Linked DNA regions of Homo sapiens: region 2 is linked to region 1. A link means that fine-mapping ties the variant in region 1 to the expression of a gene that starts in the linked region. Tissue or cell type: adrenal gland. Region 1 holds a variant in brackets; the other region holds the start of a gene. All regions are shown on one strand. Distances are from middle to middle.

The links. PIP is the estimated chance that this variant, and not a neighbour inherited with it, causes the effect. A credible set is the group of variants that fine-mapping cannot tell apart.
Region 2: FSIP2-AS1 starts here. The variant in region 1 is the best candidate, but not a certain one, in a credible set for the expression of FSIP2-AS1 in adrenal gland (GTEx, PIP 0.51).

The regions. Positions count from the first base shown.
Region 1 is chr2:185,730,695-185,735,104 of GRCh38, reverse strand. The region is part of intron 1 of FSIP2-AS2 (FSIP2 antisense RNA 2); the gene reads left to right. Among named protein-coding and RNA genes, the nearest start is that of FSIP2, 5.9 kb to the left of the region's middle. The variant G/T (reference allele first, on the strand shown) is at 2,098.
Region 2 is chr2:185,797,527-185,801,936 of GRCh38, reverse strand. FSIP2-AS1 (FSIP2 antisense RNA 1) reads left to right here and starts at 1,787. Exons shown (of 3, transcript NR_144453.1): 1 at 1,787-1,857. It overlaps FSIP2 (fibrous sheath interacting protein 2), which reads right to left. Exons shown (of 23, transcript NM_173651.4): 17 at 1-2,240.

The DNA of each region.
Region 1 (4,410 bases):
TTGGGTTTGGAGATTCAGATGAGGCACAGAGGAGACAGTTGGTCTCTGTTCTATGATGTTTGGAACTTCAGCTGGCAGACTTGAAGACTAATAGCTGGAATCAGCTCCTTCTAAAGTTATAGGATAAAATTTTCTCCTTCTGAGTCTTACTTTTGAGATCTATTAGAGAAGATCAGAAGACACCTCAGTTTAGGGTTAATTATTGCTTTATTCTCCAAACTCTACCCAGTGACTCATCCATCAGAAACTTTTCCAACCTAGCTGGTGGGAACAGGTAATGTTTACAGCTGTTTGTGAAAGCCCAGCACTATCTCTTTTGAGTGAATATTTTCCATGGCATATGGTAGTTTTCTCACAGTATTCTGACAAATATGCAGGAAATACTCAAAGATAATTCTCTGCACATCTTGAAAGTTCTCGTTCCATGCAGCTGTCCTCTTTCTACTTTTCTTTTGCATGCTCTAGCTCTATCTGCCTTCCTGGGCTCTGGGTTCTGTCTTCTGAACTCAGGGAGTCAGATGGGATCCATCTGGATTCTCCTTCCCTCTGCTGTGGTTTGAAAGTTCTTTCAAGTTTTATCAATATGCCTCGCCTCTTTTGTTTATTGTTTTTCAGAGATCATTGACCATTCCCTGATCTAGTGTCTTGAAAATTGTTGCTTCCTATATTCTGTTTATTTTTTAGCTGTTTCAGGGCATATCTTCTCCATGTTACTCTGTCTTAAGAGGAAATACAACTCAATTTTACTTGTGATAATCGATGTAGAGTTTTTAATTCTTTAGACAACAATTACTTTATTTGGGGAAAATCCCGCATATATGAATGTTGGTAGATGTTCAATCCCACTTTTTACTGAAATTAAGACGGGTCACATATTTTCATTTGGCATGCCTTGGAGGAGGGTCAAGGGCATGTGACTTTGTATTCTGAAAAGGAATTAATTCAAAGATTCTTGTAGGCTAAGGACCATGAAGTCAGGGTTAATGTCTGGTCACAGCACAAGCAACAATATTTTAATCCAATGACATCTGTGGTTTTATATTGTGTTTCCATTTTCCTCAACTTGGATTATTTCAGACTTTCTTACATATTCTCTGAGCTTTCTCAAATCTTTTCTGTCTAGGTTAGCCAGGCTGGTTTTCTATTATTTGCAACCCAAAGCCCTAGCTTATATAATAATCACTATACTCGCAGGTTTTCTTCATTTTTATTTATCATTTCTTAATGTAACTATATAAGCAGAATATTTAAATGTTTGGGTTTTACCACCTCCTTATGTCAAATTGAGAAATAAAATACAAGATCTTTAGGATCCTGTGTTGGTCAGGATTTTCAAGCAAAACAGAACCAACAGGGGATATGTGTTTATGTGTGTTAGTGTGTGTGTGTATCTTCCTCTATATATATACAGAGAGCTATCTACATATGCCAGTAGCCCAGCAAGCTGAGAAAGAGTTGCTGTTTGAATCCAAAGGCAGTCTGTTGGCAGAATTTCTTGGTTGGGGGAAATTAGTACTTGTTATGTTAAGCCCTGCAACTGATTGGATGAGACCCACTCATATTATGGAGGGCAATCTACTTGACTCAATGCCCACTGTTTTAAACGTTAATCTCATCCAGAAAACACCCTCGTAGAAACATTCCAAATGTTAGACCAAATATCTGGGTGCTGGATCTCAGCCACAATGATATGTAGAATTAAACATCACAGATCCCCATTTTTTGTCTATTTCATTAAGCTGAGCTAATTTCTGAATCTAAAAAATAGAAATGATCGTTTTAGTTTAGAAAAAGCATTCCAATTTAAGTTATACTCTTTAAAACACAATAGTTAATTAATGAACTCTTACGTGGATTCAATCTAGCCATAAACTTTTCTATTTATTTTAATTTGTATGTAGTTATATATACTTCCTTAATTTCTTGAATATGTAAGAGTTCATTTGATTATTTTTGCTTTCATCTAATATTTGACATATATTCTTAATAATGCCACCTTTTAATTAATATTTGGTTGACTGATATCTCACAATAACCTTATCTCTTTTTTTCTAAGCAAGGTATTTTTAAATTAAAAATAAAAAGTAAACTTTTGTT[G/T]AAAATTACTTGTCTTGTCTACTTTATCTTATATTGTCCAGCTTCAATAATTTAATCTGATAGTTTAAAATAATTAATATTAATAAATTCATCAGAAAGTAGACATAATAAAATGTTTTGATAATACATTGCAGTGATCATAATTCATTTAACAGTTAAAAAGGTAGCCTGCCCATAAAGCATATCTAAAATTGCTAGTAAAAGTAGCTAGTATATTGTAATGTAATAGAATTACTCATAATACAATAGACTGAAACTAAGAAACTTGAGGAATTGACATTAACATTCTAAAATGACAGAAAGTTTCAAAGATTTTAAAGGATTTTTTCCAGAAATGTACAGTAATGATTACAATGTGAAATCTAAAAAAAGCCTGAGAAATAAACAGGAAAAGAAGAATAGATATATAAATCTATAGTAATTAAGGCTGAATGTTAACTAGATTAAGGTTCAATGCTATCAAGTTGGTATATGCAGATATAGTAAAGGGCATATTAACATAAATTCCACACAGAAAGGTAAACACCACATTAGAAGAGTGTATGAGTTTCTTAGAGCTCCTGTAACAAAGTACCACAAGCTGGGTATCTGAAAATAACTGAAATTTATTCCCTCACAGTTCTGGAGATTAGAAGTCCAAAATCCAGGTATTGACAAGGCCATGGTCTCTCTGAAGGCTCTCTTGAAGAATCTTTTCTTATTTCTTCCCTGCTTTTGGTGATTGCTGGCAATCCTTGGCATTTCTTATATCACTCCAATCTCCGCTTCTGTCTTCACATGGCTGCTTCTCTGTGTGTGTGTCCATGTGTCCACATTTATCATCTCTTACAGGGATACCAATCATAGGATTAGAGCTCATATTAATCCAATATGGCCTTATTTTGGCCAGATTACATATGTAAATAGTCTATTTCCAAATAACTTCACATTTTGAGGTTCTGAGTGGACATGAATTTTATGAGTACCCATTTAACTAAGGACAAAGGGTGAGAGAACATCTTGCTGATGAGGTAAGACTGGTATATTGGCATGTCATTAAATACTTTGTTAAGGATATCAATTTGACAGAGGGCTCAAGAGTCTGTCTAGTAACAACAAAAATATAGATATCAGAATCTTCATGATGTATGTCAGTTTCTAAAGGATTCCAGAATCTGCAGAAGAGCAGATGGAATGAAACCACCAAGCCTCGTTTAATTGATTCACTAAGAGTACTTATTTTTTTTTTATTTTTGGAAAATAACTTCTTTGATGATGTTTTATGTATTTTTCAAATAATTATCACTGTTAAGAAAGAGAAAATGAAAACTTACATTAAAAATATAGTTAGGAACCACACAGTACCTTTTGATAATATGAGGTATATATCTTTGCCAACATCTCAGTCTTTAAAGTACTTTGCATTATACTTTGCATTGCTTTGTAATATATTTATCTTAGTGGTGTTGAAAAACTGATACTTAACACAGATTTCTGACCTGTTAAATAGTTCAGACCTTAAATAAAGGGCCCAGATTAAATATTGGTTGGAAAACTTACTCATCTATTCTCTCTCTCTCTGTCTCTTCTGTCTCTCTATGCACACACATACACACACACACACACAAGTGAAATATAAAATAAAGTCATGCTAAATACATTTTTAGTTTAAGCTTAAAATGTAAGGTAATGAGACATATACCACATCATAAGTGGAGAAAATTTCTTGGTAGTAAGAGACATTAAGAATATATAGTGCAATTTTAATAGCACAGACTCAGGTGTAAGATTGCCCGTGTTTAAACCCTATTTATTTCAACTCTTTGCTTTTTTTCTCATCTCTAAAATTATCATATCTTATGATATCATTGATTGGGCAGCATCAATACAGACAATGATTTATAGTGATCAGTCTGCCCCATCTCTATGTAGTCCTGATCATTGTACCATGTTATCTAGCTTAAAATCACAGAAAGACATTGAGGGGCTGGACTTTCTGTTTTTTATAGCTTTTTTTCATTTTAATTATTGGAATAAATTGCTCTTACAATCTCAGCCACTGTTACATATGTTAGGTGTTTGGGGGAAAAAGTTTGAAAAATAGCTAGAAAATATTATCCAGCAAAATGAGTATTTTTGTTTTATTAATCAAATGGCTGCAGTTTGTTTTTAAAATTTGTCACATATCCAAAATTATTATAAAACAAGTCTTCCTGCTTATTAACTTTATATATAAGTGAAGAGTAAGCAATTTACTGTTATATAATCAATTTCCAGTAAAACTATGTTAATACAAATAATAATATCTCCCACTTATTCCTCAATAAGTCTACT
Region 2 (4,410 bases), 67 kb before region 1:
GAGGTTTTTTCCAGTATATAGATATTGATTATCATATATAGTGAACCAGATTTTATGTTTTGAAATGGCTGACATAACCTTATTTATTATACAAGTGGACATTTCATTAAAATCAGAACTCATTAAATATTTTTTTCCTAAAGAGGAACATGTAATGGGTGGAGGAATTAGCTGAGATAAAAGCCTTCTTATGACATCTTCTAAAAATGAATGTGATAACATGGTACTATAGTCTGATGAAGACCTGGGTAGAGAAGTAAATTCTGTTAGGTTACTTTGAAGCTTTTGCAATATAATTTCAGGTTTGAGAGGGTAATATGAATGGGGTATGAGATGTTCCTTGAAGCAAGATGGCAGTTTGTAGTCTAAAATCTCTAACAATATGCCATTTGTTATTTGTTCTGCTATTGAGGCATTGTCGTATACCGGATTATTACCACAGGCCACTTTTAATTCATACTGCTGTAAAACATCATAATAAACTGAGTCAACAATTTTGCTAACAGTTTCTGTATGAACTGGTGGAAAACACAGCCTTTCTTCAGCATTCCGTAGAACAGTGACTTGAGCATTATTAAATTCATTCACTACATTGTTGACAAATAATGTATTCATCTCATTGAGCCAGGACACAGTGATGTTTTTATTTTTGCCCCACAATGACATAGAGAGATTAAAAAACAATTCTGAAATTATTCCTTCCAAAAATGTGGCTGAATAAACACCAGCATATATACCTTCCTGATGTAGCTTATTATGAATGGCTACCTTATCCATTTCCTTTGTTCTCTGTCTTTCAAAAGGTGACACAGAAGAGGATTTTACTGCACAATGCTTGTTAAATGGTGCTTGTATTTTGGAGCTAACCACACTGGGATTATTCAGGGATACTGTCAAAGAATTACTATCATAGCTCCTGAGTTCTAAAGAACTTTTACTCTGTCCTAATTCTATTAATTCTGACTTTCTTGCTTTTATGAAACTAGACTGTATTTCTCTTGTTCTGTAGTTCAAATGCTTATTTGCAAAAGGTAGACTTTCCGGAGCTTGTTGTATGCTGTGAGATAATTTGTCCATCAATGATTTAACCAAGCTGTGGGAAATAATAGTAAGCATAGAGTCTGATGTCAATAAGTCTTGATCAATTTCTGCCACATTCTCCAAAAGGTCTGACATGTAATCTACTTGAAGGCATTCACAGTCCATTCCTCCCTTACGATAATCAGATTTTCCATCTTCTACACTTTGAAGCATTTTTAAAAGTTGACATTCTTCTGCTGATGTTTCCTCTGAAACAGACCCTTTATCAGGAAAAGCAGTGCTTGTGCATTCTTCCAAAAGTATTCTGATAAGTTTCTCACATACAACATTGAGAAGAAAAACTGATTTTGAGGAGAGCTGTAGGTTATTGGTAAGTATGCTATTAGGTTGCTCATTATTCGAGGAGTAGAAATATGTTCTTTGTATTTTACCAGAATCCATACCCGTATCTAGGCATTCATCTGGTGAAAATAAATCTGAAACAATATTAAAAACTTTATTGACTACTTCTTTGGATTCACTTGTTTTTAGGTTACCAACCAGGCTGTTTAACTTACATGCAAGATAACTTAACTTATTTTTTTGAAAAAGTTGACCAATTTGTTGAGTAGAAAATTGCCAGTCTCTGGGGCTTGCCTGTCTATTGATTTTGTTGCAAAGGGGTACACTATTATTTCTATGCATAGAAAATGATTTGTTTCTTACATTGCTTTCAAAGTGATAATCTACTTCTATTTCTTTGGACAGTACATGAATCACTCCTACTAAGAGATCCTGAAAGAGGTCATCAAAGCCACCAGAAACTATTCCTGGACAGTAAGTGTATTTTGTAGGTATGGCAACCATTTTCTGTGCAATGTCAGCCTGTATAATTTTATTATTAAAAAGAATTTTAATAATGATTTCAGAAATACATAAAGCAAGTTCTCCAATGGAAATTGACCTGCTCTCAAACACTTGAGAATGAATTGAAATAATCTTGCTAAATGTTGCTTCTTGAATTTCCCATGCTTTCTCTTTTTCTCTACCCTTTTTGGTGCCATCAGAAATGCTCGAAGTTAAATGGTAAAGTACTGACTCAGTGAGATGTTCACAACATTGATAAATTGAAGAATCATCGTATATGTTTCTTAGGAACTGTTTTGATTCATATTTTTTCCTTGACCATGTAGAAACAGACATCTTTTCCTCACTAAAAACTTAAAAAAGGAAACATTGTAATTTTAGCATGGATTAAAGAAAATATAGAAAATTCAATATATTTGAAATTATTATTTACATATATATTTCACCCTTTGAGCAACTCACTAAAGAAAAATCTAAACAAAAAAAGAAATTAGATTTTCCTCAAACATTTATTTTCTCACCTTGCAAAATCTTAATTTTAGCCAATAAATTGAGAAAATAACACCCCAAAATTCAATCCTCTAAGTCAAATGCTGATGTCTGCCTTGGTTGGATGGTTATGAACTCTTAAGAAGCTGGAAAGCTTGGGGCAGAGAAATAATTTCCAGGCTTAGCGATGCATCCTACCATGTCTCCAGTGATACCTAGAGGTGCCATATAATTATTTTAAAATAGCTTTAGACAAAACATTTAATGTTATGCTATGTTTTACTTTTAGGACATTAAGGAGTTGTGTTGCAATATCAAGTTGACTAAAATAAAAGTGTGGCAACTCCAGAAAAGCTAGTAATAGATTGCAATAGCAGTAGTACTTTAGTCCCTAGATTATAGTTTGTCACAAAGAAGGAAGGTTGGCCCAGCCAGGTGAAGAACTCTATATTTGTTTTGTCCAAAATTCTATTTGTTACAAATCATTACCTATTTGCAATGGCCAACTGCTGGGTGTGGCAGCCAAGAGCAACACAGTTTTTTTCCTCAGAACTTAATTATATATTATATATCTTCATGTGTTATCAGGCAAGACTCTACACAGATAGAAGACTTTAAGCTGAGCTTTGACTGCTACACAGGTTTTGGCCATGTCAAGATACAGGGAATGAGGAAAAGGTATTCCTAGTGGAAGAAGGAACATGAGCGAAGTCACTGGAAGACCTTGGAGATGTCTGAGAATAGGAATATAGAATTGTTAGAGCCAAGTGTCAATGTGATGAAATCATGGATCTTCTCTTGCTTGTTTTGCTTTTGTTTATTTTTCTGAAATCAATTAAGTCATGCCTGGAGTAAGTCTATTTAAGAGTTTGTAGTTGTAGCTACATTACCGTCCATCTTGGGAGAATACTGGTTTTAAGGATGGAAAATAACCTCCTCGTGCAGGTGGGTAGGACTGCTAATATCTCCAATTAGAATGATGTGTGATGTATCTGGACTGGTGATGTAGCAAGTAATTATTGGTAACTGAAACTACTGACCTAGATCTGGGGTATTATAGTAATACTAAACTGAATTTTATTAATTGTCAATAATCAACTGTTTTTGATATACAAAATGACGATTACATGTTGTTTCACCTAATATATACACATGAGTATACTTAGAAAGATAATGCAAATATAATCCCTGTAATGATACAGTTGGAGTATTATATCTAAAAGGAATTTAAGTCAGAATACTGGAATGCAAATAAAACAAGATATTCAATTCTACTGTTCTTTTAAACTTTGAATAATAATAACAAAGCCTTCAAGAATACAAAAATTAAATGACTTTTAATCAGTTAACTGCACATCCCATATGATTATAAAGAAGTTATGCATAAGAATTTTAAAAACCCTTCCAAATTTATGCCTCATGCTCAACCAAAATCTCCTGCTTTAAAATGGCCTCATTTTCTCTCATTTGTAGATAGAGAAAACTGAGCAACACATCCTTCAAATTCAAATCCTGAAAACATTTATTTATTTTTATTTTTTTGCATTGTGATGAATTAAAAAGCAATTGAGGCTGAGCACAGTGGCTCATGCCAGTAATCCCAACACTTTGAGGGGCCGAGAAAGAAGGATCACATGAGGCCAGGAGTTTGAGACCAGCCTGCGCAACATAGCAAAACCCTGTCTCTACAAAAAGATTTTTAAAAATTAGAGTGCAGTGGCATGCCTGTGGTCCCAGCTATTTTGGGGGAAGGCTGAGATGGGAGGATGTCTTCAGTCCAGGAGTTCAAGGCTGCAGGAAGCAATGATCATGCCACTGTACTCTAGCCTCAGTGACAGAGACACTATTTCTAAATAAAATAAAATAATACATTTAAAATAAAATTAAAGTGCAACTCAGTAGTCATCTACCTCCAAGGGTATTTTCAGAAAAATAGTGAATACAGCTTTTTAGACAGGAGATCTTTTAAACATGTCTTTTACTGGTTTTCTTCCTAAATCATGCAAATTTTTAGGTACGTTCTCTCTTGCTTAC